7 separate regions of the Homo sapiens genome follow, and all the other regions are linked to region 4. Evidence: fine-mapped expression QTL. A gene starts in region 4. Each other region holds a variant in brackets. All regions are shown on one strand. Distances are from middle to middle.

Region 1 (4,064 bases), 90 kb before region 4:
GTGCTCAGGAAGGGAGATGGTCGGGGTGGGCTGGGATTGGCCGTTTTGCACACAAAAGGTGTGCTCCAAGTGCCTCTATATCTAGGGGTTAGCTAGTCCCGAGAGGGCAGTCCTTCCCAGGCCAGCAAGATGTCAAAGGATCATAAAATACAGAAAATAGTCAACCAAACTAATACAAGAGTGGTCAAGATGAGGGGGCAGAGCCGGGAGAATGGTGGATCCTATGAGGCAGGATCCACCATTGGTCTCCTTACTATGACCAAGTGAGATCACCTTACTATGGTCCCTTCCCTGGCCCTGGCCAGACCAGCACCTTTGCCTCACTATGGTCCCTTCACTGGCCCTGGCCAGACCAGCACCTTTGCCTCACTATGGTCCCTTCCCTGACCCTGGCCGGGCCGGTGCCTTTGCCTCACTATGGTCCCTTCCCTGATCACTTACACAAAATAATAAGACAGGACGGTGAGAGAGTGGCTTGGGAAGGGGCGGGGTGGCTGTTTGGTCAGGGTGGTCAGGTTGACTGGGAAGTGGCTGTCAGCCTGAAGGAGGAAGCTGGGGGCAGAGCCTTCCCGCAGAAGAGATGGCAGGAGCAGGACGGCCGGCAAGATGGGTTCCAGGGTGGGTGTGGGCGAGCAGCGCCCGGGTAGAGCTCAGTGACATGGCCTGCATGGGCTGGTCACTGCGACTGAAGATGGAACCCTGCTGGGGAGGCGGCTTAGGTGGAGAGACAGACCCAAGAGCTCTGAGTCATTAATGCTGGGGGCGCCACCTGTCACGCAGTGGGTGCACCAGCCTGCGCTCAGGGCTGAGGTCTAGGAGTCATCGGCATAGAGATGGCGTCTGAGGCCACGGACTGGATAAGAACAGTTATGGGAGAGGGCTAAGGACTGAGCCGCTGGGCACCCCGACATTCATGGCCAGAAAGAAGAGCAGGTGCAGCCATGGAGGCAGGATGAGGACCAGCGAGGAGTCCGTTGTTCTGGAGACCAAGTGAGAGTTTCAGGAGGAGCTGCCAACAAAGTCAACAGGGCCAGGAGATTGGATTAGGAATGGCATCTCCAGACGAGCATCTGCAGAGGGTCTGACAGGGTGCACTCAACTTGACCCTCAATGAAGCAGCATGTTACCCACTCCCAAAAGAACCCCTTGCTTCTCGTAAGCAGAGCTGTATTACCAAAAAATTGTACTCAACTATTGTATTTTGAATTCCATCTCTAAATATTTGTGGAACCTCTTTTCTCTGTGTTACATTAGTACCTAATATCCCTGTTTTTCCTCTTGGGCCCACAAAGTCTAATATTATTTACCATCTGGCCCTTTATGGAAACACTTCAGTCATCTTGAGCCAGAGCATGAAAGTGGAGGAGGCATTTTGAGAATGGATGAGGGGCCATGGGACACATAGGACCCAATGCAAGGTACAGTGGCTTCCTGAGGATCAGGGCATGGCAGCCTTGGGGGTGACCTCGTAGGTAGAGGCGCTGGTAGGCCTGAAACATTCTGGGAGTGGTCTTCGTGTGGCCTGGGGAAAGCTGGGGGTTCAGTTCCAGCCCAGCCTCCTCTTGGGGCTTGGTCTCTGAGGCAGATGGGGAGGTCATAGAGTGGAGTAGCTGGGGAGGAATGAGGGTATCTCACCAGAAATATGTCACTGTCCCCAGTATCGCCCCTCATGCCTGTTGCAGTTCTGAAATGCTTCAGGCAATGCTGTGATCAATGTCTTGTCTGTTTCTGATCAAAATCTGTCTGCTGCACTGCATGCAGGCAGGGACCAGCTCTGCTCTCCCAGGTGCCTCTAATACCAAGGACATGGCTGGCGATCCCTCAATATTTGTTGGAAGAACCAGTGAAGGAATCAATGAATGAGCAAATGAACAATGTCCCACCCTCACCACAATGCCTGGCCCAATGACTCGTGCATAGTAGATGTTCAGAAAATATTTGCTGAGAAAATTAAATTTTGGCTTTTTTACACTTTCTAGCTCAGGTGTATACGTTTGGTGCCTTTGAGGCCCTGGGCAAGGCCGAGCCCTGGGGTGGAGCAATGTGCTTCTGATGTGACTCAGGGCTCAGGGGACTCCTCACCGCAGCTAGCCCATCACAGCTAGCCCCTGAAGTCTGCCTTCAGGGAGGCGCAGACAACTCACGCCAGCCAGCCCAGGGCAGGGGCAATATCCGTGCCAGCAAGTCTC[G/T]GCTGAGAGAGCCTTTTGGCAGAAAAAGCCATGTTTATTTCCCTTGTTTCCCCCTAGAAATCCCAGTCATCACCTAGACCCCTGATGGGTTGAGCTGCAGAAAACCCTGGCCCAGGTGACCCCAAAAACCACTGGCCTTCCCTGAGGGAACTTGAAAGGGGGGCATTTGAAATGGAGGGGAAGGAGAACTAACCCTTGAAATGTAGACAGGCTACTGAGGATGGAAGCCTGGGGCTGGTGCTGAGGGTATATAATGCAGCACTATGGTTAAAAGCACTGACTCGGAATGTCTGAGCTGCATTCTGCTCTCTTTCTGGGGATCTGAGCTGTGTGACCTCAGGCACGCATGCAGCCTCTCTGATCCTCAGTCTATATTTGTAAACTCTGAGACCCACTCATGAGCAAGACAGACCTGTGGGTGCAGAAAGGGCCTGTGGTGTACCCAAGGTTAAGAGATGGCTCTCCCAGGCTCTCTGCTGCGGAACTGGGCTTTGAATCCAGCTCACCTGGCTCCACTCAGGGCTCACCCTCTTCCCACACTGTCCTTGTCGGTGGCAGAGTTTGGTAGATGTAAATCATAGTCCCTTATGGTGGGAAAACAGTCGAAGGGGGATGGCTCATGACCTGGGGGAGATGGGCCAGGGTGCAGGGAGAGGCAGCTGGGATTTCCCCACCCTGATTCCCTGGCCCCCACCTTTCTCTGCCGTACCAGGAAGAGAATTCCTCAGGGGGCGTTGGGCCTCCGACCCTGGGCAAGTCACAAGGCTCAGGGAGGCCGAGGTTTCAGCCTCAGCTGAGACTTGCCCGCTTCTAGATCTGACCAGGACCTGACTTTAAAGGGGCCTTTCAAAGCATGCAGAGCTGAGGGTACACCCCAGAAAGCCCCCAGGATCCCCACTGGCCCTCAGGCCTGCCAAGGACCCTGCATGAACCCGGCCTCCTCATGCTGCTGGCAGCTCTCCACTGTGGGAGAGGAGGCCTTTCACAGTCTCTGTGTCCCAGACACAGTGCCCAGCACCTATAGGGCAGTCAGCAGAGGCTGCCCAGGAGGGAGTAGACCAAGTCTCCTCCTTGCTTTGCCACAGGTTCAACAAGGAAGAACCCAGGTGCAAGCCTGAGCTGGGTCCTGGGTGCCCCATGGTAGGAGGACGCAGCCACTTGCAGGTGGCAATTTAGAGAGCCCTGTTGCTCCTCCCCAGAGTCTCTCGCAGGCCTGCTGCATTGCCTGAGAATCCCCACCTTCTGCCTTCGTACTCAGCCCTTACAGTCCAAGGTCAGCAACCTGTGCAGCCTGAGGCTCCCAGGATGGCCCACAGTGCTCAGCCTCCTGCCCTGGACCCGAGTAGGAGCAGGTTTGTAGAGGATACTGGGGATGAGCCAGGGGGCTGGGGACAGGGTTGGTGAGGACAGAGATGGTGGGGGTGAGTCCAGCCTGTAGCCATCAGTGAGACCAGACACCAGCCTTCCAAAGCCCAAAGCCACGAGGCTGGGGGCCACGGAGGTCACCAACCCCTGAATAGGGACTGGAAAATGTTCTATTTCTCCAACTTTCATAAGCTGCTGCCTTTGAAGTCAACAACAGCTGAACTTCAAAGCAACTCAAAACTACCTAGGTGGCTGATGTGTGTAGTTTACACACATCCTGGAAAACTCACAAAGTAACTTCACAAGAATTTTTTAAAAAGTAAAAAGGTAAATAACTAGTAAGCACTCAAAAATTACTTCTACCAAGAGCTGGAGAAATTGTCCTGTCTCCATTGTGGGGGACAAGGCTGACTCTTGGAAACCAGGTGACCTTCCACGGGAAAAACACTGTGATGTGAATTGAGGAGGAGGTGGGTCTGTGGCCTGACCCCTCGTGTCACCCTGTCCCAC
Region 2 (4,064 bases), 25 kb before region 4:
AAATCCCAGGTACTGAGCTCAGGACAAAAAAGAAGGGGGAAAAAAATCCCTCCTCCCTTTTGGATCATTTGCATTCCTTTCCCGTAAAGGAAACTTGGAAACGTTTCAAAAGCATCGAGTATTCGGAATCAACTAAAAACCCGAATTCTTCTGTCTTTTTGTCTTTTTTTTCTTATTTGGTCCCCTCAGTCACTTTTTCCCCTCTTCTACCCTTCAGAAAAGGCAAAATACCAGTTACCTATCTAATAAAATGAGTGCCTCCATTTAATCAATTTGAGAGATTCACTGGGTTTTATGGGAGGACTAGATTTGGGGGTTTAAAACATTATTCCTCAAGTTACAGAGTGTTGGGCTAGGAGAGCTTTGAGCGTCGACCAGCTAGGGGAAGGGGGAGGAGGCTGAAATGGAAAGAAAGAGACGGATGTTTCTCAAACTTCTTTAGCTAACACACTGCGAGTCTGGGACTCGAACCCAGGGCTGTCTCTCTCCACCACCGCCAAGACGTGTTCTGTCACTGCTTCTGCATCTATTTCTGGGACTGACCCACACCTCCTCTTATGTAACTGGCTGGGGGAAAGAAAAAAAAAAACGAGTTTACACGGTCACAAAGCAATTTGCAATTATCTTCTTTCTAAATATTCATAAGCTGGGATTATTTTCCCCTTTGGATGACAACACAGTCGATGACATCGCTGGAAAGTCTTTGGTTGACTTAGTTTTTCTGAGGTTTTCACACCCAAAACCTTGAGCAAAAATGAAGGATGATGAACAAATCCCAAAGGTGCTTTTCCTTAGAAATGGCCAAAAGCGTTCACCTTACAATTTAAGCAAGAGGTGGAGACCTTTCATCTTAGGATGGGGGCACCCCACCTGGGCTGCCATGCACCTCCCTCCTGGGGAGGTGGGCTCCAGCCCAGCCACAGCTCATTTCCTGGGCTGCGTCTCCCTGTTCCCCTGAGCAACCAAGCCCAACCCAGCCACAGCTTTCTGAGATGAAGCCAGCACTTTTGGTGACAGCACATGCCTTGGGCTTAGCCTCCTCCTTTTGTCCCATTCTTCCTATCCCCACTAGGACCTGAGCCACCCGCAAGGCGCTCTGCAGCTGGGGCAGAGGGGCCATTTGCACATTCCAGAGTAACTGGCTGCACTTAGCACTGTGCCGGGCATGCAGCCCCATCTGAGTGACAAGACAGTCGCACCCCAGACTCCACATCCTGCACTTAGTGCTGGGAACACCAGGACTTCTGCAAGTGGCAGACTTCCAAACTCCCTTAAAAATCTCTTTGGGGATCACAAAGAAGAGATTAGGAACATTTTTCAGAGCATGAAGCCCAGATATTTATCGTCCATGGATATTTTCTGGCCAGTGATCACATTCACATCATTCGTGGAAATCTCTGGCATCTACTGCACTTATTCAGACCAATTTGCTCAGTAATCAGTGCAGGTGCACTTCTGTCCTGCTTCCTAAGATATGCAATCCAGTTGGGCATGGAAGCCGCTAGAACAGAAGCTCAGATCCAAACTGAGGCACTTGAGAGATCACACTGTCGGAACCTCTCATCTCCCAGATAAGGACCAGGAGCAGGCCATCTGCCCCAAACCAAGGCTGACTTTCAAGCCTGATAAACAGGGAAGTTGGAGACTTCTTCTGCATGTTGGGCAATTAAGCTTATAAGTGGAAGTCTGCGCCCTCAACTACTTTCAGAAACAGATTTAGAAACAGATGGTTTTTGTGTTTTTGGTTTTTTTGAGACGGAGTGTTGCTCTGTCACCCAGCCTGGAGTGTAGTGGCATGATCTCAGCTCACTGCAACCTCCGCCTCCTGGGTTCAAGCGATTCTCCTGCCTCAGCCTCCCAAATAGCTGGGATTACAGGCGACCACCACCATGCCCCGCTAATTTTTGTATTTTTAGTAGAGACGGGGTTTCACCATGTTGGCCAGGCTGGTCTCGAACACCTGATCTCGTGATCCGCTGGCCTCGGCCTCCCAGAGTGCTGGGATTACAGGCGGGAGCCACTGCGCCTGGCCTAGAAACAGAAGTGAG[T/C]ATCATTTCCCCCAAGGAGAGTTGGGTTTTCAAGTTTCATTAAAGGTTGTGTCTGCGGGTGCAAAGTGAAAATGATACATTGAGGCAATTATCCAGATACGTAATGTCAAACTACCAGAAACTTTGCCTTAATTAGTGAAATAACTGAAGCAAAAAATGAGTATATGCCTAATTCCCGGAATAGCTGGCTCGAGCTCTCACCTGCTCGGGGGGTCAGAGGCAGAGCCAAGGGGATGGTGAAGTCAGTCCCCACGCTGCAGTGGTTTACATGCTGACCACTCGGGAGCAGAGTGGCAGTTACCAGGACATGGGTTATCTAGACAGCTGGAGTTCTCATCCTGGCTCCACGGCCTGACACTTAGCCCACCTCAGTTCCTTATCTGAAAAATGGGGATGATGTGACAATATGTAGTCTAATGGAGCCACAGGGAAGACTGAGATAATCCATGGGAAGCACCAAGCAAGGACAGGGCACCTGGGAAGTTCAGGAATCGTTGGCAGTGCTCCTCATCATGGTAACCATCACTGTCACTGTTATTCCTGTTTCCACCTGCTCTTTGGCTTTTTAGCTGATGGGCCGGGTACATGTCCAGTCTGGTCTGTGTCACACACTTCCACATTTTATTCCAGCGTCTCCTAGAGGGCTGGCTTGCTGAAATGCATCCGAAATGAATTACTTTGCTGTCTGTTGCAATAACTAGTCCTTCATATTCAAATCCAGAAAAAGATCAAAACACATATATTTTAATGTCTTCTAAGTCCGTTGTGAAAAGCATCACTATGCTCTTATTAAAAATTCTGCTTTCATCACCTGCCTTAATATCCCTGTTCTTGAATTAAAAAAAGAAGTCAGAAAGACAGAGGAAAATAGTGATTTTTAAAGTAAGACCTTATCTTGTGAATAACTGTAAAATGTTCTATTTTAATAAGAAACACAAATTTTCAAACAATAAAAAGGGGATCATTTTTACTTTAGAATGTTCCACCTTATGGTATTTTGGGCCCTAAGTATACAAAGAAAGCATACAAGGAGATAATCGAAGCTAGAAAGTATCAGAACATGCTTTAGCATGTCTCTGTCTGGGCTAAGCTGGGGTCAGATGTGAATCAGACAGGACTAGGCAGGATGAGAATGGCCTCTCAGGTGAAAAGGACAGTCCCTTGTCTCTGCACAGACATCCATCGGCTTAGCATCCCTCCCCAGAGGCCTCTCCCAAGGAGGCAGGTCTGTGCTGCTAGGCAAAGTTGCAAACTCCCACAGATCAACATCCCGTTTGAGTTCCTACATCCTGTAGTCCTCCTGAATATAGAGAGGATGGGTTCAACTGACTTCTGCAGGCTCAGCTCTAGTACAAATCAGTGCCATACAGATAATAAATATAGCCAGGAAATTCAAGAGTCTTGCAAAGTTCAAGTTAGTCCCTGTTGTTTGGGGGACCCCCCCCCCAACTATTGGTGATATGGCACAGATGGAAATGGGGCAGAGGCACCATGAACAGAGTAACATTGCAAGAATCATCGGGGCCAGGCTCGGGGAATTTGGGACGGGGAGTCCAGGGTCTCTGGCAAGTCTCTGAGTCATCAAGATGAGTGAGCCTCAAAGGCAACACAGGGGAGAACCATGAACAAGCAGTGACACGTGCAGGGCCCGTGGCCTGGGGAAGGCTGAACAGGGATGGACAGTTTACGGTTTCACAGTTTTAAAAATTTGAGTCACTGACTTTAAACAGGTGAGGCAGAGCAGGGGACCCAGAAAACAGGAACAGTGCTCCTCCATGAGCCCCTGCCATAGGACACCTGGGCAGAGGCCAGCCTGAGCCTGGACCTTCCCAGTCAGCCAGCTCATCCCTCGAGGAAGGACGCAGATTTTTCTCTCATTGCCTGCCTTTAACAGTTCTGCGCTCCAGGCCTGACCAAACCAGATTTATCCATTAGGTTCCATGACATGTGGAATATACTGAGGGCAAAGAAGTCACCCCAAGATGGGAGTTCCCCTGAATCTAAGGTGTCACTGTG
Region 3 (4,064 bases), 120 kb before region 4:
TACCTCCCAAATAAAGCCCAAAGGTGACCTCTTTCACCTTTGCTGTTGCTGCCAGCCTTGTCCATGCACCACCGTCTTTAATCCGGATGATTCCAGAACTTCATGGTCCACACGGAGCCACTAGCCACATGTCGCTATGTAAATTGCACTAATTTAATTAAAATAAAGTGAATTTTAAAGCCGAACTTCTCAGCCACACCTAGCCAGATTCCAAGTGCTCAAGGGCCACACGTAGGCCCGTGGCCGCTGCAGGTGCAGTGCCAATGCAGGACACTTCCATTGCAGGACAGCCCTGCTCCAGGATCTCTCAGGGACAAAAGGGACGATGACCCCTGCCTGCATGTGTGTCTCCTCCCCCAGGCCCAGCCCATCTTCCCCAGGGCAAGCAGGGCCTTCTTCCTGAGCACGACTCAGCTGACATCGCACCTGTGCTTAAACTCTCTTATTGCCTATCCCGGTTAACAGAACAAAACGCCAGTTCCTTCCGTGGCCAGCCAGGCGCCACATCTTCACATTCAGCCAACCATCAGCAAATATCTATTGGACATAAACTATGTGCCAGGCAATTGTGATGGAAGATGCCAAACAGCAAAGAGTCAAAACTCCTCGCCTCCATGGAGCTGTCTAGGGGTAGGGGGGCGGGGGGAGCGATAAACAAACGGTAAGTAAATGATGGTTTTCTAGAAGATGAAATTGCTATATATATATATATTTAAAAAAGAGCAGATTGAAGGCACCTGGAATGCCAGGGGAGGGTGACCAGATGGCCTCGTTGACAAGGTGACAGGTGAGCCTTCCAGGTGGGGGATCAGCCAGCGGGGAGGCTCCAAGGTGTGGGCAGGCCTGGGTATTTGAGAAACCCAGGGGATCCAAGGGGCTGGGAAGGAGGAAATGAGGGAAAGGGTAGGTCCTTGGGGTCATGGGAAGGACGTGGGCTTTCATCTGAGCCAATGGGGAGTTATGGCAGGGTTTGAGCTGAGCAACAGTTCCCAGCTCATATTCAAAAGGCTCCTTCCAGCTGCCGGCATACGATGGGTGTTAAGAGGGGGGCGCAGAGAGCCCCGAGTCACCTGCAGGGAGGAGGAGGGTGAAGTGGATTTGGGTGGCAGTGGTGAGGAGTTCAGAGATGTTCAGAGGATCCCAGGTGGGTGGGATGTGAGTGGGGGTAGCAGCCCAGGATGGCTCTGGGTTCCTTGGCTCCTGAGAGATGGGACGGACAGGTGTGCAATGCTGGTGAAGACACGAGTGGGAGGCGTTCACTGGACACTAAAACAGAGGGGCAAACGGAGAGCAGGAGGCATTCACTGGACACCCAAGAGGAGCGATAAAGGGGAGCGGGAGGAGTTCACTAGACGCCCAAGCAGAGAGGCAAAAGGGCTGGGTCTGAGTCCACAGTGCTGGAGAGAGGTTGCTTTAGAGGCGGGAGCTAAGTGCTATGAAGCTGGCCCGCTGCTCTCTCCTTTCCTCTCTCCACTCTCTCCGTCTGGCCACTTGCACCTCCCTTTGCACCCACGACATCTCAGCTCATTTCAGTGCCCTAGCCTCTATCCTAGCAGTCCCCTGGCCAGCTCCACTGCGCGGTTCCGCCCTCTGCTTCCCACCGCACTCCGCAGCCCTGAATGATCGCTACTCACCCGGCTTAAACTGTGAGCCCAAGGATACTTGAGGACAGTTGTGTGAGGACACTTGTGGAGGACAGACACTCCAGCTCCTTGCTTGG[G/A]CTGTATTCCCAGCGCTAGACAGGCCTAGCCCCAGAAGACTCAGCGTCTGCACTGCCCCCACCTTGCTCCGCTCCCTGCCCCACCTTGCCCGCCCCCTGCCCTACCTTGCCCTGCCCCCTGCCCTACGTTGCCCCGCCCCCTGCAGCCACCTGCTGCTTTTCTGGGAGGCCCAGGAACCCAGATGGTCGCTGATGAAGAGGAGCATCTCTCCCGCACCAGTGGACCCAGCCCTGGGTTCTCAGCCTATAAGATACCACCACGCCCATACACAAACACGTACAAACATACACACTCCCACACACAAACACACACACGCAATCACACACAAAAACACCCCACACCCACACACAGTCACACACACACCCCACACATAAACATCCACACATTCACACACACAATCACATACACACACCCCACACCCACACACAAACACATACACACAAACATCCCCCCCACACACTGACATACATACAAACGCCACACAAACACACAATCACAAACACCTTCACACACAATCACACACACACAAACACCCCCACAGTCACACACACAATTGCAAACATACACATCCCACACTCACACACAAACACAATCACAAATACCTCACACACAGTCACTCACAAACATGACCCCCACACACAGTCACACACACAAACACCCTACACACACACAACCCCCCACACACAGACACACACACACCCTCCACACACAAAAACAATTTCACACAATCACACATAAACACCCACCCCCAACACACACAAACACCAACACATGCCCACACACACAAATATTCCCCATACACATGCACACCCCCCACACACAAACACACAATTACAAGAACACACACAAACACTTCCACACTGACACACAAACACAATCGCAAACATATACACACTTCACACTCACATGCAATCACAAACACCACACACGCACACACACACAAACACTCCCCCACACACAATCAAAAACATACACCCCACAACCACATAAACGCACACAACACATAAACACACACACACAAAAAACACTCCACACACACCCACACATACAAACACCCCACAAACACCCAAACACAATCACACACACAAACACCCCCAACACACCCACATACAAACACAATCACAAATACCCACACACGAACACACCCAATATACATTCTCACACTCACAAGGTTTAACTTCTTTTCTTCCCCTCCTCCCCCTTCCCCATTCCTGGTCTGAGAGTTTTATTTGAAAAGACAGGAAAAGCCTGAAAAACCAGCTCGCCTCAAAAGTACATATTTTTTAAAATTGAATACAGTATATTAATTATTGATTATGCATTTGATTTATGAATGAGAAATGACTTTGAAACTTCTTTTTTCAGCAGTGGAGCCATTCAAAAGGGATACGAGCGAACGTACTTGTATCCTGACTCCTGAGTCGATCCCACTTAACTCAAGTTGTCAACGGTGATGCAGAAGGGGAGCTGTGGAAACCCACAGAAATGTGGCGGCGGGGCGGGGCAGAGAACGAGGAGGGGAGGGGAGAGGAGGGGAGGGGAGGGAAAGGGAGGGGAGGAGTAGGGAGGGGAAGAGATGGGAGAGGCGGGGATGGAGGGGTGGAGAAGGGAGGGGATGGAGGGGCGGGGCGGGACGGAGAACGAGCGGGGGAGGGGACGGGACGGAGAGGTGGGGAGGGGCGGGGAGGAGATGGAAGGGAGGGGCGGGGATGGAGGGGTGGAGAGGGGTGGGGATGGAGGGGTGGGATGGGAGGGGAGAGGATGTAGGGGAGGGGAGGAGGTGAAAGGGAGGGGCAGGGATGGAGGGGTGGAGAGGGGAGGGGATGGAGGGACGGGGTGGGAGGGGAGAGGATGCAGGGGAGGGGAGGAGGTGGGAGGGAGGGATGCGGCAGCGATGGGGAGAAGGGAGGAGCAGGGAGAGGAGAGAGGTGGAGGAGCGAAGAGGGGATGAAGGTGAGCGGCAGGGCGGGGATGGAGGGACGGAGGGACGGAGAGGGCGGAACGATTTCCCGCCGCTCTGAACGCCCCGCCTGGCCGTGCTGCTCGCCGTGCTGGGAGCGCCCCTGGAGGAGGCTCCCGGGCGGGTGGGCGTCCGCTGCCAGAGCCGAGGCCGCTTCTCTCCCGGGCGGGCACGTTGCGGGCTGTTCCTCGCTGTCTCTGCTGGAATGGGTGGGCAGGTCTTTGTGCGCTACTTTTAAGTGCTATAATGAGCGCCCTCTGATTCCCAGTCCTGGAAGGGGCAGTAGCTCCGGGGAGCGGATGGGGTGTCGTTCGCTCCGATCCCACGTCTGGACGCACCAAAGCCATAGCAATGATCATAGGGACCCTCGGCCGCCAGGCCGG
Region 4 (4,064 bases):
GAAGGCATTTTTATTCCTATACTACTTTGAATAAAATCATATATGATCTATGTATGTCTTTATGTATCAATCAAGAGATCCTAGTTCAACATTCAGTTTGTAAAATTAGTAAGTGCCATGTTCTGGAAGGGAGGGTTCCTGATTTTGCAAGGTTGCCGGTCCTGGGAGGAGAAGCAGGAAAGCGGGGGATGGATAATGGTCCAGGAAGGTCCAAGGAGGGTCCAGGAGAAACGCTGGGCAAATCTCTAGGCCTCAGTTTACTTCAGGGCCCCTCGGGGGTGCAGATGCCCTCCGAGGCCTTTCTGCCCCAACGCTGGGTGGCTACCCTAACCCACCGAGGCATCCCACAACACTCAGGAATTGCAGCTGATAAAGAGGGGCTGGGGGCACTGCTAGGGCGCCCAGAGGCAAGGTTAGCCCCTTTGCTCAGCCTCACTGACCGGCTTGTCACATCCCTCTGCGGGGCATCCCGGAGCCACACTTCATTCCCGAGAACTCGGTACAATTAACTTAACCAACGTGAACAAGGCGAAGGCGCCCAGCTGTCACAGCGGCTCCGCGCACGCAGGCAGACGAAGAAGGGCCCCCGCCCCCAGGAGCTGGTCCCAGCCTCCAGCCTGGCAGCCTCCTTCGAAGACTTCCCTACACTGGGCGCGGACCTCCAGCCGCCAGCAGCCGGCAACCCAGCCCCAGCCTTCCTCCTCTATACCCGCCGTCCCAGCCGCGCCGGCCGGCCCCGGGCGCAGGGCGGGCGGGAACGTGGGCACCCGGACAGCGACGGGGAGGTCAAGCAGCTGTGCCCAGGACCCGGGCGGCTCCGAAGCCTCAACACGCACACACTCGCGCGCACGCCGGCCCATCGGTTGCCTGGAGGAGTCGGGAAGGTGCTTCCACGGCTCTTCATTCATTTTCCCAAAGGCAAGGTTCCCTTCGCCCCGGCGCCTCTATCCTGCCATCCCAGGGGGCCAATTGCGCCACAGCCCGCCACCCAGCCACCCACAGCCACCGCGTCCTATCTCCCGGCACACACAACCCAACAGACTCGCATTACATCTCCACCGCCAGCGTCGCCTCCGCGCCCCGGCCGCTGCCATCCGGCTCCCCAGCTTCGCCGCCCCGCAGCCCCGGCTCCCCGCCTCTGGCCTCACCGCGCGGCTCAGAGCTGCCTCGCTCGGCTCGCCGCACCAAGGCCGGCCAGAGACGCCGCCACCGCCGGGAAGCGCCGGCAACTCCCGAGTCACGCCGCCTCCCGAGACGCGGCGGGGCGCAGGGAGGGGACAGCAGTGGGGGCGGGGCGGGGAGGAGGAAGGAGGAGGGGGCGGGGAGCAAAAGTTCACACCGCTCGGGGCTCAGCCGCTCCCCTATCTCTTCCCAGGCCCGCCCCCGCCATCCCCCTTCCCTGAACCGGGTCCCACGGGCTTAGGCGCGGGAGAGCTCTGGCCTCCCCGCCCGGAACCGCCGCAAGGCTAGAGCCAGGGTTCTGGAAGCGCATCCGAGCTCGCAACCGGGGAGAGAGTGGCGGATGCCCACTTACCTGCCCCGGGCCGCGCCTGGAAACTTCCCCAAAGTGCGATAGGGGTGTGGGGGCGGAGCGCAAGGCTGGGGGGAATCCCCGTCCCCTACCGCCAAACGACGCGCGCTCACACCGTGAAAGCACTGGTCTGTCCGTCGGTCGGTCCCCCGCCTGCGGCTCCCAGAGCTGGGCGGTGCAGGGGCGCCCCGATTCCGACTACTGGGCTCCTTCTCCCGGACAGCCCGCCGGTGCGTTCCACGCGGCTTGCGCCCCCCGCCGGCCTCCGGCTATCCACGGCGCCACCACGCCACTGCTCGGTCCCCTGTCCCCTCGCTCCGGCCGCGTCCTCTCTGCGAGGGAGGGGGCGTGTGTCGCCGCTGGGTAACCCTTCCCGCGGGGTCCTCAAGCGCGCAGGGCGCCCGGAGCGCGGCCAGGACCAATGGCGAAGGGACTCCTCCCGCTGGGGATCGCTGAAGCCTCGGGGAGGCCGGGCCAAGGAGCCCGGGGCCCAAACCTGCCTCGGCTCGTCGAGCTCGCAAGTTCATTGTCTGCCTGGGCCGCCGCCGCCACCGCCACCGCCACCACCGCGCCGGGAGCGCCGCGGGGAGTGAGGCTGCGCGCCGCCTCCGCCGGCCCGGACTCCCTACGCCCAGCCCCGGCCGCCGCCGGCGCTGCCTGGCCCGAACCCGCGGAGGGGCGCCGGAGCCCCGAGCCCAGGGCCAGACCTCCTACCGCCGCTCCTCGCCGACCCCACCTCGGCGTCTGGCACCTAACTTGTACCTGAGAAGCCTGAGTCCAGCCCGGGAGCCTCTGCGGCTCCGGCTCCGCGGGAGCGCGCCCAGCCCCGAGCCTCTAGCCCCGCATCCAGGGCGCGTCAACCTGACTCCCCGAGCGCTGGGAGGAAAAGTTTGGGAGTGACGTGCAGACGGCGAATGAAACATCCGAGGAGAACCCTCCCCCCGCCCCATGTCGCGCTGACACACATCAGCTCCAGTCTGGAATGTGAGATCAAGGCGTGTGCGCCGAGCGGTGGGTTTGGCCCCTGCCCCCTCCCCCTCCGAGTCAACACTGCTTGTGTGTTGCGGTGATTCCAAATAAAAGCACATCGAAACCCCTGAAATCTGGCAGTGACACCTTGCCAGATACTTCTTTTTTTTAAAGACAGAGTTTCGCTCTTGTTGCCCAGGCTGGAATGCAATGGCGCGATCTCGGCTCACTGCAACTTCCGCCTCCCGGGTTCAAGAGAGTCTCCTGCCTCAGCCTCCCGGGTTCAAGAGAGTCTCCTGCCTCAGCCTCCCGAGTAGCCGGGATTACAGGCATGCGCCACCACGCAAAATAGGCTAATTTTATATTTTTAGTACAGACGGGGTTTCTCCATGTTGGTCAGGCTGGTCTCGAACTCCCGACCTCAGATGATCCGTCCGCCCCCCCAACCCAAAGTGCTGGGATTACAGGCGTAAGCCACCGCGCCCGGCCGCCAGAGACATCTTTAAGGAACTTGGCGGTCTGGAGCCAGCCCGTACATTAATATTCAAGGCCACAGCGCTGGTGAGTTCGGCGCCCTCTGTTGTATTTTTGCATCCCGGGAAGGCTGGCCCGGCTCTTTGGCCCGGCGTGTTTTGCTTCCGCGGGGGAGGTAAAGCTCTGCAGGACCCCGATCGCCACGGCCTGCCGCAGTGGCCTGGAGTCGGCTGCCCCAGGGAACCACCTGGACAGCCCGAGGGCAAGAAAGCGGCACCAGTGGCCGACTCCACTGACTCTGGGCTGAAGATGCCATCAGTTAAAGAAAAGACACATGAAATTCTGGCAGATTCGCTCAGAGGGCGCTTGGAGCACCAAGCCCAGCCTCTCAGGAAACTGAGGTCCAAGGGACAAAAAGAATCTGCAGTCTCTTGCCGGCCTGTGTCCCCGTGGCCAGAGTCCAGCACCCTCTTCCTCGAAGCAACCAGAAGTGGAAATGAAAGTGCTCCGTTAACTGTAGACTACATGCCACCGAAGGGTCATTCCTGACAGTGGCTTCTCCCCATTATCTCTTTATTGCCGGAGGCTTCATCTCGCCCCCCTGAAGCTACAGTCCACCCTGAGGTCATAAACTTCTGCTCAGCACCCATGGCAACTAATGCAGAGGTCACCATCAGAGGATTATAACTGCAGATGGGAAACCGGGATGAGAGGGGAGTTCTTTAAAATCCTGTCTTGTTTTCCTGCAAATAATGCCTCTTACATAAAATCTGCGAAGAAAGATGAATGCAGCAAAGAGACTTGCCTTAGAATCTCAGACTAGATTGCTTTTTCCATATAGACTCCACTTAGTGATTTTTGTTCTTTATTTTTTTTTTAAACAAAAACCTATTTCTGAAAATACAACGAGCTGCTTTTTGCAGGGTTCACAATTCCCAATAGATGATGATGCCATTTTTCAAGGTCTCACACACGTTGTGGCTTTGGGGCTTATTTATTAGCTCCCAAGAAAAGCCTGCCTTTCAGTGAGGTTTATATACTCGAGTAATTGCATCAGGGGACACAGAGCAGGTTGCTGTTAAAGAGGGTT
Region 5 (4,064 bases), 85 kb before region 4:
GAGGTCATACCCTCAGCCCTCAAAGATGCACCCCAGCCGTCCTGCTCCTGACTCCCACCCGTCCTCCATTCCCTGCTGGGTAAAGCCATTCCTGACCCTCGCAGGAAAAGATGGGGTCTTCCCTATTTCCAGCCTGGACACACCTGCCCCCTACCTCAACACACCACTGTGGGAGGTGGTGCTGGGGAGAAGGCTCCCCCAGGAAGGTCTGCCCAGAACTGGGGGACCCACCATGGTCCACGCTGTGCTCAGGATGGCCCAGCTTTCAGAGCCCTAAGCCTGAGATGTCCCCTCTGTATGGGCTGAAAAGTGTGCCCCAAATTCGTATGTTGAAGTCCCAATCTCGAGTACCTCAGAATGTCACTGCATTTGCAGATAAAGTTGTTTAAAGAGATGATGAGGTTAAGATGAGGCTGTCAGAGCACGCCTTCATCCACTCCGACTGGTGTCCTTATAAGGAGAGGAAGAGGCAGCAGGGGTGTGTGTGTGTGGCCACATGAACACACAGAGAGAATCAGCCATCAGCAAGCCAAGGACAGAGACCCCCAGAGAAACCAGCCCTGCAGCACCTTGATCTCGGGTCTCTGGCCTCCAGACTGAGAAAATCAGTTTCCGTTGTTTGTGGTCTTTTGTCCTGGCTGCCCCACCTGAGTGCACACCACACCTCCTTCTGCGGGCTTGCCCTCAGCAATAAGGACATGTGCCAGAGACACCAGGGGTCTCAAACTCACAGCTGCCAGGGGCCAGGCAGGCCACCGGAATGAGGCCTGTGGTCACTTAACCTTCAAATTTGAAGGTCTGAAGACAACGCTAGGCCTGACTGTGGCTGGGCCAGACCTCCCACCCTGACTCACACCCCAACAGGACTCGCACAGGGAGTCCCTGCTAACATCTGAATCCTTTTCTCTCTGGTCTTGAGTTTTCTTCTGCCTGTTGCTCGCACAATCACACCTCGTCTCTCAGCAGCCAGCACAGCTGTAACTCCTCTTTACACAGAGCCTGCACAACTCGAGCAGGTGCGACACTAAACCACTGCGATTCACTCATGCACCAGGAAGAGCTTGGCTGCAGAGGAAGAGCACGCGCTCCACAGGCGTCACTCTTATGGGTCCATCTTTAATTATGTTAAATATTAATAAAAGTACAGCGTAACTGCGATTCACTTAACATACCTTACAGGACTAAGGGAGTACAATTTAACACGGTCACAACTTTTGAGAACAAAAAGGAACTTCAATACCATGTTGTGAGAAATGCTCCAATTTGCTTTGGTTTTGAATGGCAGGCTCGAGAACCACCGCCCAGAACGGAACCTATTCTGTCAGCAAGAGCCGGGCCTCGAATGAGAGGAAGCAGAGGCAGCCGAAGTGCCCTCTGGAGAGAAAGGCCCCTGGAGGGAAAAACCATGTCTGGATGGCATTGAGTGGCACAGAAGGGATGGGACTGCATATATAAAAAAGATCCGCATAATAAACCAAATAATATTGGAAATAATACCTTCAGTAATACTTCTGTAAGAAGCAGAATTACACCACATGTTATTCACATGCATAGGAGTGCATAAGAAAAATCCCTTGTTGTAATTATGGTTGGTGTGGAATAGTAAAATATGTACTGAAAATGACAAGTTAATTGGCAGAGAAATTAATCTATAAAAGGGTTGTGTCCAGAGCGGAGGAGCCTCATTAGCAACTGAACAGAACCCACTCAGAAGACGCACTCACCCACACGTGCGCGTACACACACACACACGCGCGCACTGTACTGCAAATAAATATACACACACACTGAAGTGATCTCTCCCTAAAGCATCCTTGTGCTCAGGCCAGATTTCCCTGCTGGCGGCTGCTCCCAGTGCCGGCTATAGAGAAGGTGGGGACTGTCCCTGCAAGTGGGAGTTCAGGACACACGCTCCTTCAGTAGCAAAAACAGCCCTGGCCATCCTGGCGCTCAGAGCCCTCTGCACACCTTCGAACGGGCTGTGTGTCCCTTCTCTGATGGCAGAAAGACAACACCAGCAGAAAGACGGCTGAACAACTGCAGATCCTCCTACCCCCGAAGCCTGGTCTGTCTCACACATACAAGTTAGAGCTGGGT[A/G]GACGGGTGCTTGCACTTTCTGGCTTTGGTGGGCGAGACCTTGGCCTGAGAACTTTGGTTCACAGGAAGCTTCCCTTGACAATACTTGAGTGCAAAGCTTCATCCAGGTCCCACCTGGGCTGTTGCCAAGGATGCTCAAGCGTTCTCTTCAATCTTCCCTGTGACTTCCAAGAAACGACAAGATCTCTAGCCCATCCATCGGTAAACCAAGCTGCCAAGTGGCCTGGAAAATTCCATGAAGAACACGGCTCTTAGAAACCTCATTCCAAATCTCAACACGCCACGTTCAGCCCAAGTTCAGCTTGTGCATTGTGTTTTGGAATTGGGACACGAGTATCTATAGTCCCTTGCTGGGTGAGGAACTTTGACCACACGCAGTGGAGAATGTGGAAATAAACTATTTCCAATGGGAAGGCAGAGAAATGGAGCCTGTAGCCGGCCAGAACTAAAAATTAAAATCCTCTGTTTCTCTGATGATCTTGTAAACCTGATGAGGGCTTGAATTACCTAGATTTTCCAAGAAGTGTTCAATTCCTTGAGGTTGCTCATTCTGGCATTAACAGCAAAAATTTCTCTTCCAATTATAAACTGAAGTTCTTGAGAAAACGTATGAAGAGGCAGCAGAGAGAGAGCCAGGACTGGTTAAATGCAGAAAGTGGTTTTGTTTTAAACGCATTCATTTTCTATGTTAAACATAAGTCCACAAGGACAGAATAGGAGGAGGTCAGAAAGATGAAGGTGCTGCCAAAAACTGACTTATTTTTTTCCTTTTGGAAACAGTGACGTTAACAGGGTTTACATCTGAAGAAACTGGAGGGCTGAGTTTGGAGTAAAGGAGAAAAAAAAAATGAAGAGCCTCCATTCTCGAAAGACTGCGGTTCTCTGTCCCAGTGAGGTTAGCGATCGCAACAAGAGTGTTTCAGAAGTGAATGTGGTATGATCACACCTGTGAAGATAGCCATTGAATACAGACAGTCTGTGCAACACGGCGAGACCCCATCTCTAGGGGGAAAAAAAGGGAACGTGAAGTGTAAGTTCCAGCCAGGCCTGTGGCATGACCTCTGGCTTGCTGACTCAGAACCCAGAGGCTCTCCAGAAGGCGGAGGCGGGCAGGGCCAGGCTGCCTTCCCTAGGTGTTCTCTCCACACCCAGTGCAGGCCAGCTGGCTGCATCCCCAAGCTCCAGGACGCTCAGAGCAGAGCTGAATTCTTGAGAAACTGGGGTCTCCAATGGCCTCGGATAGAGGAGCTCTGTGAGGGGTCCATTGCTGAGCTCTCGAACATCACGAAGGAAATTCCAAAATGGTTATAATTCATGTGTGCCTAGAGTGGCAGAGTCCTGGGGTTTTCCATACCATGAGTGAAACAGTTCCCCGCAAAGAGATTTGTAAAATCCTGATGATGACGGCATTGGCGGGCCCAGCACGTGCAGCAACAATTCAGCTCTCACGTCGTCTTCCACGCAAACGCCTCATCCGCGAGGACCTGCGCCAGCCTAGCGTTGAAGGGCCTGTAGAAATCCCGCAGAATCTTCTGTGTGATGGGCCACATGGGCCCCAGGTTCCGGTCCTCGGGACGCCGTGCATTGGATGCGGGGCTCTTGGTCATCAAAGCCTCCTGCTTCTCACTTAAGGGCCCTAGAATAAAAGAAGACGAGTCCCGTAAGGCAGGAGGCATGGCAGGAAGTAAAAGGGACTTTGCAAAAATCCCAGCTATGCTTCGTATTCAGACAGGAGTTTCCTTTAAGAGAACATATTTAGGGATTAAAATTCTTTGGCTGGATCCATTTTGGAAGCACTGAGGGAGGAAGGTGGAAACACCATCAGGAAATTGCGAAGAAATTCTGCGGCGGGTGCAGGATGCCCACCCTCGGGGGAGCCCAGCTGGCATTTAATGATGATACAGCGTCTAAGGCTGACCTCAAGGATTCCCTTCCAATTGCCCTTGGTGGGCTGCTCTCCATGGGTG
Region 6 (4,064 bases), 50 kb before region 4:
GTATGCTGTACACCTTAAATTATACAATAAAAAATAAATTTTAAAGAGTAAATATGTATGTTTACTTATAAAATATTCTTGTGAATATTTAAAACAAATTATTATTAATCAACCTCACTTTGAATGCCCAAAGGCATGAGGTTGACAGGGGCTAGGCTTTTTAAACAGCAATTAGTTATAGGCGATGTGTCAGAGCTGAGTCTATTTCAGGAGAAGCTGCCTCCGTCTTATATGGTCCCAGTGGCCAGGGATTACAAAAGCCCCAAGCAGCAAATCGATGACTAACCAGTTAACTGCACTTATAATTCCCCCATCCAAACTTATCAGATCAGTACATCAGGAAAAGAAGTCAATATCCCTGCTTAATTTCTTAAAAACAAAGAAATGGCAACTTCTCAAGAAAGCCATCAGCTGTCCTTAAGTCTCCAAAGAATTAGAAAGTCAACATTTCCACTTTATAGTAATGTTCAAGTGATGTGAACATTTTATGTAGTGGTAAGAGTGACAGCCAGGTGGAGAAGTGGAGGCTCAAAAGAAGTTTGCTGCCACCATGTAAATGTTCTGGAGGTGAAGCAGAGCTGGGCTAGGCCTGGAGCCAGAGCCAGGACCCCAGGGAGGGTGCTAGCCCTGCCAGAGTGACACAGACGCCTTACCGATAATGATTGTATTCATCTTGCTCTGCTCCTTTGCAGAGCTGGCCTGCAGTCCTTGATGGATCTGGTGTGCGGCCAGGTCAAAGAGGTCCAGATAATCTTCCACGGGATAGCGGTCTCGCAGCCCATCTCTTAGGCGGACGATTCCTATGAGAACCAAGAAGCAGGAGATACTGAGGACAAAGTTGCTACTGCTGGAGCGATGGCCTCCCAGACAGCAACCAAAGAGAGATGGAAAGGCCTAAAGGGCCTGGCGACAGCAGCAAGAGGCTCAGCCCAGGTAAGCTTCAGAAAGGGCTGCTGGGGATGGGGGTGGGGGTCTATGCGGCCTGGCTACCCACTTCAATCCATGCATGCTTCAAGGGCTGGAAGATACCACCACTAAGCTAGACAGTGGCAGATTAAAGGCTGGAACACCTACTCAAGAGCTAGAAACATGTCTGCTTGGAGGGACAAAGTCTGGGGCTGGTTAACTTGTGCACAGGTGGGACTCGTAAGTGGCTGGGCAGCGATGACACCCAGGATGCATGTGTTGTGTCAAACAGGGAGAGAGGACCGAGGGCTGCCCACAGGAGAGAGAAGGGCAGTATCCTATAAACTCCATGATGCCTTCCTCATGGGGCCCAGCCAGCACCTGCCTGATGTTCTCTCTCCTCCCCCTGTTCAATCAAATACCCTGCCCTTTGTCCAAACAGTAAGGGGAACTGATCATACTCTAGACAGACATGGATTCTGGCATCGGCCACATACAGCTTAAATTCACCCCCTGCCTGAAAAATAAATAAATTTCACTTGCAAACATTTAAAAATCCACTTCCCAACACCACAACTCCTGAAGTCAATGGAAATTGGAAAGAGAACATCCGTGGCCAAAGTAACAAGAGGTTCAAGGTGACATTGAAGACTAGATTCCAGAGGCCCGCCTCTGTTCTTCCTCCTTTCCTGCCGGTAGAAAGCTGGTTTTCATTAAGGGGAAATCACTGTGAGCCTCGGGGGAGCACCCTACAGCAAGGGAGTGTGTTCAGACACGTCCAGCAAATGCATAGGGATGTGAAACCCTGGCTCCTACAGTGGCGGCTGCTAAACCACAAAAGAAACATTTACACTTTAGCTCACTGTAGGACGAACATCAAAAGGATGAAAGCAAACGTTTGTCAGGAAACACATTAAGAGTTGGTCTAGGGAAAACTTTGAAGATTCCCTTCTAGTCAACCTGAGTCCATTACTGGAAAACACCCTCGTGGCCTGCCAGGACTCTGGTTGACAATAGGCACGTATCACCCCTCAGCTCCAGTGACCAAACCTCTCCTGGCACAAGGAAAAGGTTACAGAGAGGAAACAGTGATCTGAGGACCGCAGGGTGCATGGGGTTAAGCTGGAGCAGAGAGGGATGGGCAGTGGTCATGGTAAGCCTGCGGCAAAGGGCTGAGAGCAAGGCCTCCAGAATGATCTCCATGTGGTTATCATATGGAACCCATAAGGCAGA[T/C]GGGGCAGGTCAGAGAAGCTGAGGCCTGAAGCAACTCAGTCTCCCCCAGGTGCAGTGACTGCAGCTGGAACAGCACATAGCTGAGAACAGCACAGAGCAGAGGAACAGCACAGAGCAGGGGAACAGCACAGAGCAGGGGAACAGCACAGAGCAGGGGAACAGCACAGAGCAGGGAGCAGCACAGAGCAGGGAGCAGCACAGAGCAGAGGAACAGCACAGAGCAGGGAGCAGCACAGAGCAGGGAGCAGCACAGAGCCAAGGAACAGCACAGAGCAGGGGAACAACACAGAGCAGGGAGCGGCACAGAGCAGGGAACGGCACAGAGCAGAGGAACGGCACAGAGCAGAGGACCGGCACAGAGCAGGAAACGGCACAGAGCTTGGGAGCGGCACAGAGCTTGGGAGCGGCACAGAGCTGGGAGCGGCACAGAGCAGGGAATAGCACAGAGCTGGGAGCCAAGAGCCCGGATCACGCCCTTCTTGCTGGCCCTTACTGGCCACTGGCACTTACTGCTGACTGCTCGGGTCATGTGCCCGGGCTTTCGGAACAAGAAGAGCTGCCAGTTCTGACTCGTCCCCGTGTCCTGCACACAGCTGGCAATCAATGCTCACTGCATGGCTGGGAACCGAGTTCCAGACCCTGCTGGGTCTTTGCCTGGGAACAGCCTCCTAACAAGGGAATTGTGCCATCTCTTTCTGCCGCCCTCGCCCCCCAACCCCAGCGCTAACGTTGCGGGAGGAATGAACGAATGAAGGAACGAGACCAGACAGGAGCCCTGGGACCCAGCACTCACCAAAGCGCTTCCGGGTCCACCAGTGTGGCTCCTTGATGGCGGAGAACTTGACCTCAGGGTGCAGCCGCAGGCGGTCATAGAGGTCTGTGGTCCCGCACTTGGGCTGCCCTATGATGTAGAAGTGCGGCAGGCAGCGCAGGCGGAAGTGCTTCCCGTGCGCGTGCGCCAGGTGGCCCCAGAAGGCCTTGCGCAGGGCGTCGAAGGTGGAGCGGAAGCGCTTGGAGTAGAGCACGTAGGAGTTGGTGAGGTAGGGGTCGGTGGTGTTCTGCCCCGAGAACTCCTCGTACCAACAGGGGCTCTTACTGTTTGGAAGGAATTTGTTGGGGATGACTGAAAACATCTGCAAGGAAACAGAGGAGGAGAGACACAGAGGAGGGGAAAATGAGCAAAGACACAATCTAACCGCAATGGGAACCTGCCCTGAGACTGACGACCGTGTTCAAATTTGAACTAATATTTGACAATGATTAACAAATAAAGCAAAACTTGGTAGACGGTCAATGACTGTGCTTTCCTCTCCCCCGCCGCCCCACAAAAAAAAAAAAAAAAAAAAAAAAAAAAAAAACTTGGAGAGAATAAAGATAAAAGTTTAATTAAAATCCATTCTACCATAATTTACCTTTCTGACACTTACACAACACACACGCACACACGGTAATTAAGCAGAATCTTTTTACTAGTTGTATATTTAAATTGCCGTTAGAGATTAAAATGTAGAATAGAAGCAGAAAATCAAATTTAACGCAACTTTAAAATCCCAAATGATGGTGATCTGCAAAAGCAACTGTTAACTACCACGACCACATATCAAGCAAGAAGTCCTGGAATGCAATAATGAGAGCCAGCGGCCCTTGAACATGCCTAGCCCAGCGTTCAGGACAGCAGATTCCCTTCCTGGCACTCCATAGCGTAAGCAAACAGCACTCTCTCAGTGCATTCAAATCCATAAGGCTGTCAAATGATCCTTGCTACATCTAAGACATTTTTTAGTCATTTTCCTTCTGTGTTCCCAAAGATGGTGATAGAAAGAAAAGCACTCATTTCTAAAAATCAACCAATCAGTCAAGATTAGCACAAAGCTACTCACATGCAACTCCTGCTTCTTAAGGTCTTCTAAGTCTGGGAGCTGTCT
Region 7 (4,064 bases), 44 kb before region 4:
ATCATTCTCAGAGTCATGCACAGTCAATGACTACAAATTTGAGGGATGGATTGAAATATCAGTGCTTTTCAGTCAATGAAAAATCTCAAGAATACTAAGGAGGATGGTTAGAAAGGGAGCAGGCAGAGAAAATGTGTTTTTTCCCTCTCACTGGCATCAGCAGTCTCTTTCTTAGAGTTAACCTTTATTATCAGATTAGGAAGCAAAAGTTAATGAAAATTTAGAAACAATGAAATGAGTCTCTCCTTCAGTAGAATGTATCATATTAAAAAACTACTTGACTTTAAGTTATTAAGCAATTAAATCCAATGTATAGGATTCCCTCGAGTGACACAGAGCTTCAGAACCTGACATAATTTTTCACTTTCATCATCTCGAGCAAGATATGATTCTTAAAAACCCATTAATAGAATCCTGTGGTTATAAAATATATTGTTGCCCAAATGACACTTCTTTGTAGATGTCGTAGAAAGAGCCATGGATAAGCATAAAAGGAGACCTACTCAGTTTCTAGCAGTGGTAGATCACCACTAATTGGCTGTGTGACCCTGAGCAAGCCACATAACCTCTCTGAGCTTTGGTTTCCTCAATAGTAAAATTAGGATAATAAGGACACCTTAACAGGTGCTAAATTAGCTACTACATGTAAACAGTTTGAATAATGCCTGCCACATATTTAGCATACCATAAAAGGTAGACAGCATTGATAATAATAGCATCATCAACTATTATGATGATGATTTTTCATTGTCAGTGAATGCCAAAAACATTTGAAATGGAATCAAAGATGAGAGATCCTATACCACATGATTATTCTTTAGCAATTGAAAATTACCCAAGAGTGGTAGACTCATCTCCAACTCTACCCACGCCACCCCTCAAACAACCCTCACTGTCTCCATAGAGGCAGCATTAACTAACCGCGCATCAAGATCGCCATGTACTGGCTGAAGGATTAAACAATCAGAACTCAACAGAAGAAATGTTCATGCCCCTTGGACTGAAAACTTCATGTTTTCTCAAAATATGGTGGCCAAGAAACAGCCAAGCTGTGTTTCCCAAAATGTCTTCCTCCCACAAAATGTTCTGCTTGCCGTTGGTGAGTGTTCTGTGCTTAAATTATTTGGAGAAAATGTGGAATGGACAAAATTACACAGAATTCTTTACAGCTGAACTTTTCAGGGCCTTTGATATGCTAATAAGCCCTGTGAATCCACAAGAGAGGAATATAATACACAAAGTTGGAAGTACCTAATTGGCCAAGGAATCTCACTAGGGTATCAAGGAGCCAGTTTGAGAAAGGCTGGTCAGTAGAGGCTGAGACCTGAGTCCTGCAGAGGCGCTGGGGCGGGGATGCAGAAGGGGCCAGTTCTGGGAAGCCAGGCCAGACATCTCAGGCCCTACCCCCATCTCTTATCCCTGAGGGCAGCTGGAGGGACATGTCAGAAACCTCAAGGATCAACCTCTGCTTCAAACTTGCTCAACCACCCCTGACCCATCGCTTGCTACAAACAATTCTTCCAAACTAAAGAAACAAAAGGGCAAGATCCCCTACTTGGAAACTCCATCATTAAAGCCAAGAAAACATTTTTTCACATGTCCAAGACAGGGCCAAGCCGGGGTTAAAAATGAGACTCCAACCAGCAGCTCAGCGGGGAGGGAATTCGCACCCTCCTGTCTTTCTGCTGCAGAAAATCGAATTAGATTCTTTAAAAAGCAAACAAAACACGGACTT[T/A]GAAGCTCCAAGATAGGAATGTACATAATCTGGACCCAAACGAATGGGCAAAACATTCCTAAACAAGGGCAGGGGCAGCTCATTTCAAGCAAAGTAAAAACATGAGCAGCCGACAGTCTCAACAGAGAGGAGGGAAGATGGGGTGCCCGGACCGGGTCCACAGAGCATGTCTGCGGGGCAGCTGCCCCCACCAACCAGCCCGGCCTCTGCGAGTCCCGCTTCCTAAACAGAAAGACCTGAGGAGGCAATTCGAGATGCTGCAAGAGCCTTAGCAAAACACTCAGATACAGTGTTTTCTCAGCTCCTAGCATTCTTTCATTCATTCATTCATTTGTTCAACAAATACCTTTTGAAGAACAGCTGAGTGTTGCGCATGTCCAGGTAGGGGGAGACCAAAAGCCAATACAAGATGAGGGATGTGATGTGGAAATAAGAGATGAGTATTTGGTCTCTATCCTCGGGTACTGGTACACAGGTGCTAAAATCCTTGGAATTTTTCTGAATGATGGGGTGAGAGAAGCACCTTTCGTCATTCATGACAAGCCCCTTTCAGCCATACCTGAGTGTATCCTGATGCGGTGACACTTTGCGGGCCAGGATAGCTCCAGGATGGAGGCTGGTCACCAGAAAGACCAAGCCTCAGTGAGCAGCTTTCAACAAACCCCCCAAACTCCGGGTAGGGAATAAGGGCTGCAGATTAAGTCAATCACCAGTGGCTGATGATTTAACCAATCAGGCCTTTGTAATGGAACCGCCATCAAAACCCTTAAACCACAGGGCTCAGGCAGCTTCCAGGTTGGTGGATCCTTCGAGGTGCTGGGAGGGTGGAGTGGAGGAAGAGGGCATGGAAGCTCCACACACCCTCCTCCACCATACCTCGCCCCATGCGTCTCATCTGCTGGCTGTTTCTGCATTCTATGCTATAATAGACTGATGATGAGTCAAGCACTCTCCTGAGTTCTGTGAGTCATTCTAGTGAATTACTGAACCTGAGGAGGTTGTGGGACACTCTTGCCTTTTTAGCCAATTTGGACAGATGTGCGGGTAACCTGGGGACCCAATACTTGGGACTGGCATCTGAAGTGGGGCAGTCTGGTGAGACCGAGCCCTCAAACCGGTAGAGTCTGAGGCTGCCTCTGGTAGGGGCAGACTTGAATTGAATGGTAAGATAATCAGTTAGGTTCTGGAGTTGGAGGATTTGCTGGTGTTGGAAAATACCCCTGGGCTGCGGTGGGCGTGGGGGTGGGGGCCTCTCTGAGAAAAAAACATAAAACTGTCTTACATTTACAAGTTTTTACCAAAATCGATAGCCACTGTATAGTATGTCAAATACTCAGTAAGATGGACAAGCAATCTGAAGACCAGGTGAGTCCCTTGTAAGTGAAGGCCCTAGAGCCCGGCGGCTTCCAGACAAGACCTCCCCTGACGGGCGCGAGTGGTGCAGGGCTGACCCAGAGAGGAGGCCTGTTCCCAAGTGGAGCTTCTGTCCCACCAGGGGTAGGGGCTGCAGGGCACAAGCTATAAAGAAGTCCCAAATGAATAAGATAATCACAGATGCTGCTAGATAAAGGCTATGCAGAAAAGAATAAAGAAAAGGGGGAGAGAGCAATACAACCATTGGAACAGGGTTTTGGAATTCTTTGTGCCGTCCTAGGGCTGGCCCATGCTTTGTTGTCAGGGCTGTCCCGCGCACAGTAGGATGCTTAGCAGCACCCTGGCCCCCACCCACTGGATGCCATAGCACCCCTTCCCCTGACATGTCACAACCAAAAATGTCTCCAGGCATTGTCAGTGCCCCCTGGGGTGCATAATCACCCCTGGGTTGGAGCTACTGCCTTAAAGAAGTGGGAGGTATGATACACAGGGTGACAGGGAAGACCTGATTTCAGAGGGGACGTTGGAGGAGAAACCTGAACAAGAAGGAAGCCAGTCACGTGGAGACCAGGGGAAGCAAAGGCCCCGTAGAGAGACGCTGTGGGGAGTCCCAGCCCATGAGGGCTACTGGCAGGGTAGGCCCTGGGGCACAGGCTGGTGGGGGTGGAAACCTGATGGGAGAGGAGGCAGGGACCAGGCTCTGTAGAGTCTTGAAGGCCAAAGTCAGGGGTGGGATTTGCTCGAGTGCAAGAAGGAAGGCATACTACATATTCTTTTTTTTGTTTTGAGATGGAATCTCACTCTGTGGCCCAGGCTGGAGTGTAGCAGCACGATCTTGGCTCACTGCAACCTCCGCCTCCTGGGTTCAAGCGATTCTCCTGTCTCAGCCTCCCGAGTACTGAGATTACAGGCATGCATCACTGCGCCCGGCTAATTTTTGCATTTTTAATAGAGA

Alleles and levels. Alleles are on the strand shown, and positions count from the first base shown. SD is a standard deviation of normalised expression in the study named. Not every link is listed here.
In carriers of allele C in region 2, the expression in unexposed skin of the gene that starts at base 2,423 in region 4 tends to be higher than with T alone (small effect, 0.22 SD a copy in GTEx).
In carriers of allele A in region 7, the expression in liver of the gene that starts at base 2,423 in region 4 tends to be lower than with T alone (moderate effect, 0.75 SD a copy in GTEx).

The links. PIP is the estimated chance that this variant, and not a neighbour inherited with it, causes the effect.
Region 1: its variant is the best candidate, but not a certain one, in a credible set for the expression of CHST15 in whole blood (TOPMed, PIP 0.78).
Region 2: its variant is the best candidate, but not a certain one, in a credible set for the expression of CHST15 in unexposed skin (GTEx, PIP 0.86).
Region 3: its variant is the best candidate, but not a certain one, in a credible set for the expression of CHST15 in whole blood (TOPMed, PIP 0.65).
Region 5: its variant is the best candidate, but not a certain one, in a credible set for the expression of CHST15 in whole blood (INTERVAL, PIP 0.71).
Region 6: its variant is the best candidate, but not a certain one, in a credible set for the expression of CHST15 in whole blood (INTERVAL, PIP 0.64).
Region 7: its variant is the best candidate, but not a certain one, in a credible set for the expression of CHST15 in liver (GTEx, PIP 0.90).

What each region holds. Positions count from the first base shown.
Region 1 is chr10:124,001,086-124,005,149 of GRCh38, forward strand. No RefSeq gene overlaps it. Among named protein-coding and RNA genes, the nearest start is that of CHST15, 90 kb to the right of the region's middle. RefSeq lists enhancers at 2,688-3,255, 3,256-3,821. The variant G/T (reference allele first, on the strand shown) is at 2,190.
Region 2 is chr10:124,065,883-124,069,946 of GRCh38, forward strand. All of the region lies in intron 1 of CHST15 (carbohydrate sulfotransferase 15), which reads right to left. Among named protein-coding and RNA genes, the nearest start is that of CHST15, 26 kb to the right of the region's middle. The variant T/C (reference allele first, on the strand shown) is at 2,049.
Region 3 is chr10:123,968,987-123,973,050 of GRCh38, forward strand. No RefSeq gene overlaps it. Among named protein-coding and RNA genes, the nearest start is that of CPXM2, 79 kb to the left of the region's middle. The variant G/A (reference allele first, on the strand shown) is at 1,721.
Region 4 is chr10:124,091,176-124,095,239 of GRCh38, forward strand. It overlaps CHST15 (carbohydrate sulfotransferase 15), which reads right to left and starts at 2,423. Exons shown (of 8, transcript NM_001270764.2): 1 at 2,294-2,423.
Region 5 is chr10:124,006,607-124,010,670 of GRCh38, forward strand. CHST15 (carbohydrate sulfotransferase 15) reads right to left here. Exons shown (of 8, transcript NM_001270764.2): 8 at 1,062-3,733. The coding sequence ends at 3,543. Among named protein-coding and RNA genes, the nearest start is that of CHST15, 85 kb to the right of the region's middle. The variant A/G (reference allele first, on the strand shown) is at 2,098.
Region 6 is chr10:124,041,648-124,045,711 of GRCh38, forward strand. It overlaps CHST15 (carbohydrate sulfotransferase 15), which reads right to left. Exons shown (of 8, transcript NM_001270764.2): 2 at 4,020-4,064; 3 at 2,933-3,272; 4 at 654-800. Among named protein-coding and RNA genes, the nearest start is that of CHST15, 50 kb to the right of the region's middle. RefSeq lists an enhancer at 1,588-1,827. The variant T/C (reference allele first, on the strand shown) is at 2,140.
Region 7 is chr10:124,047,067-124,051,130 of GRCh38, forward strand. All of the region lies in intron 1 of CHST15 (carbohydrate sulfotransferase 15), which reads right to left. Among named protein-coding and RNA genes, the nearest start is that of CHST15, 44 kb to the right of the region's middle. RefSeq lists enhancers at 1,394-1,894, 1,895-2,395, 3,437-3,937. The variant T/A (reference allele first, on the strand shown) is at 1,736.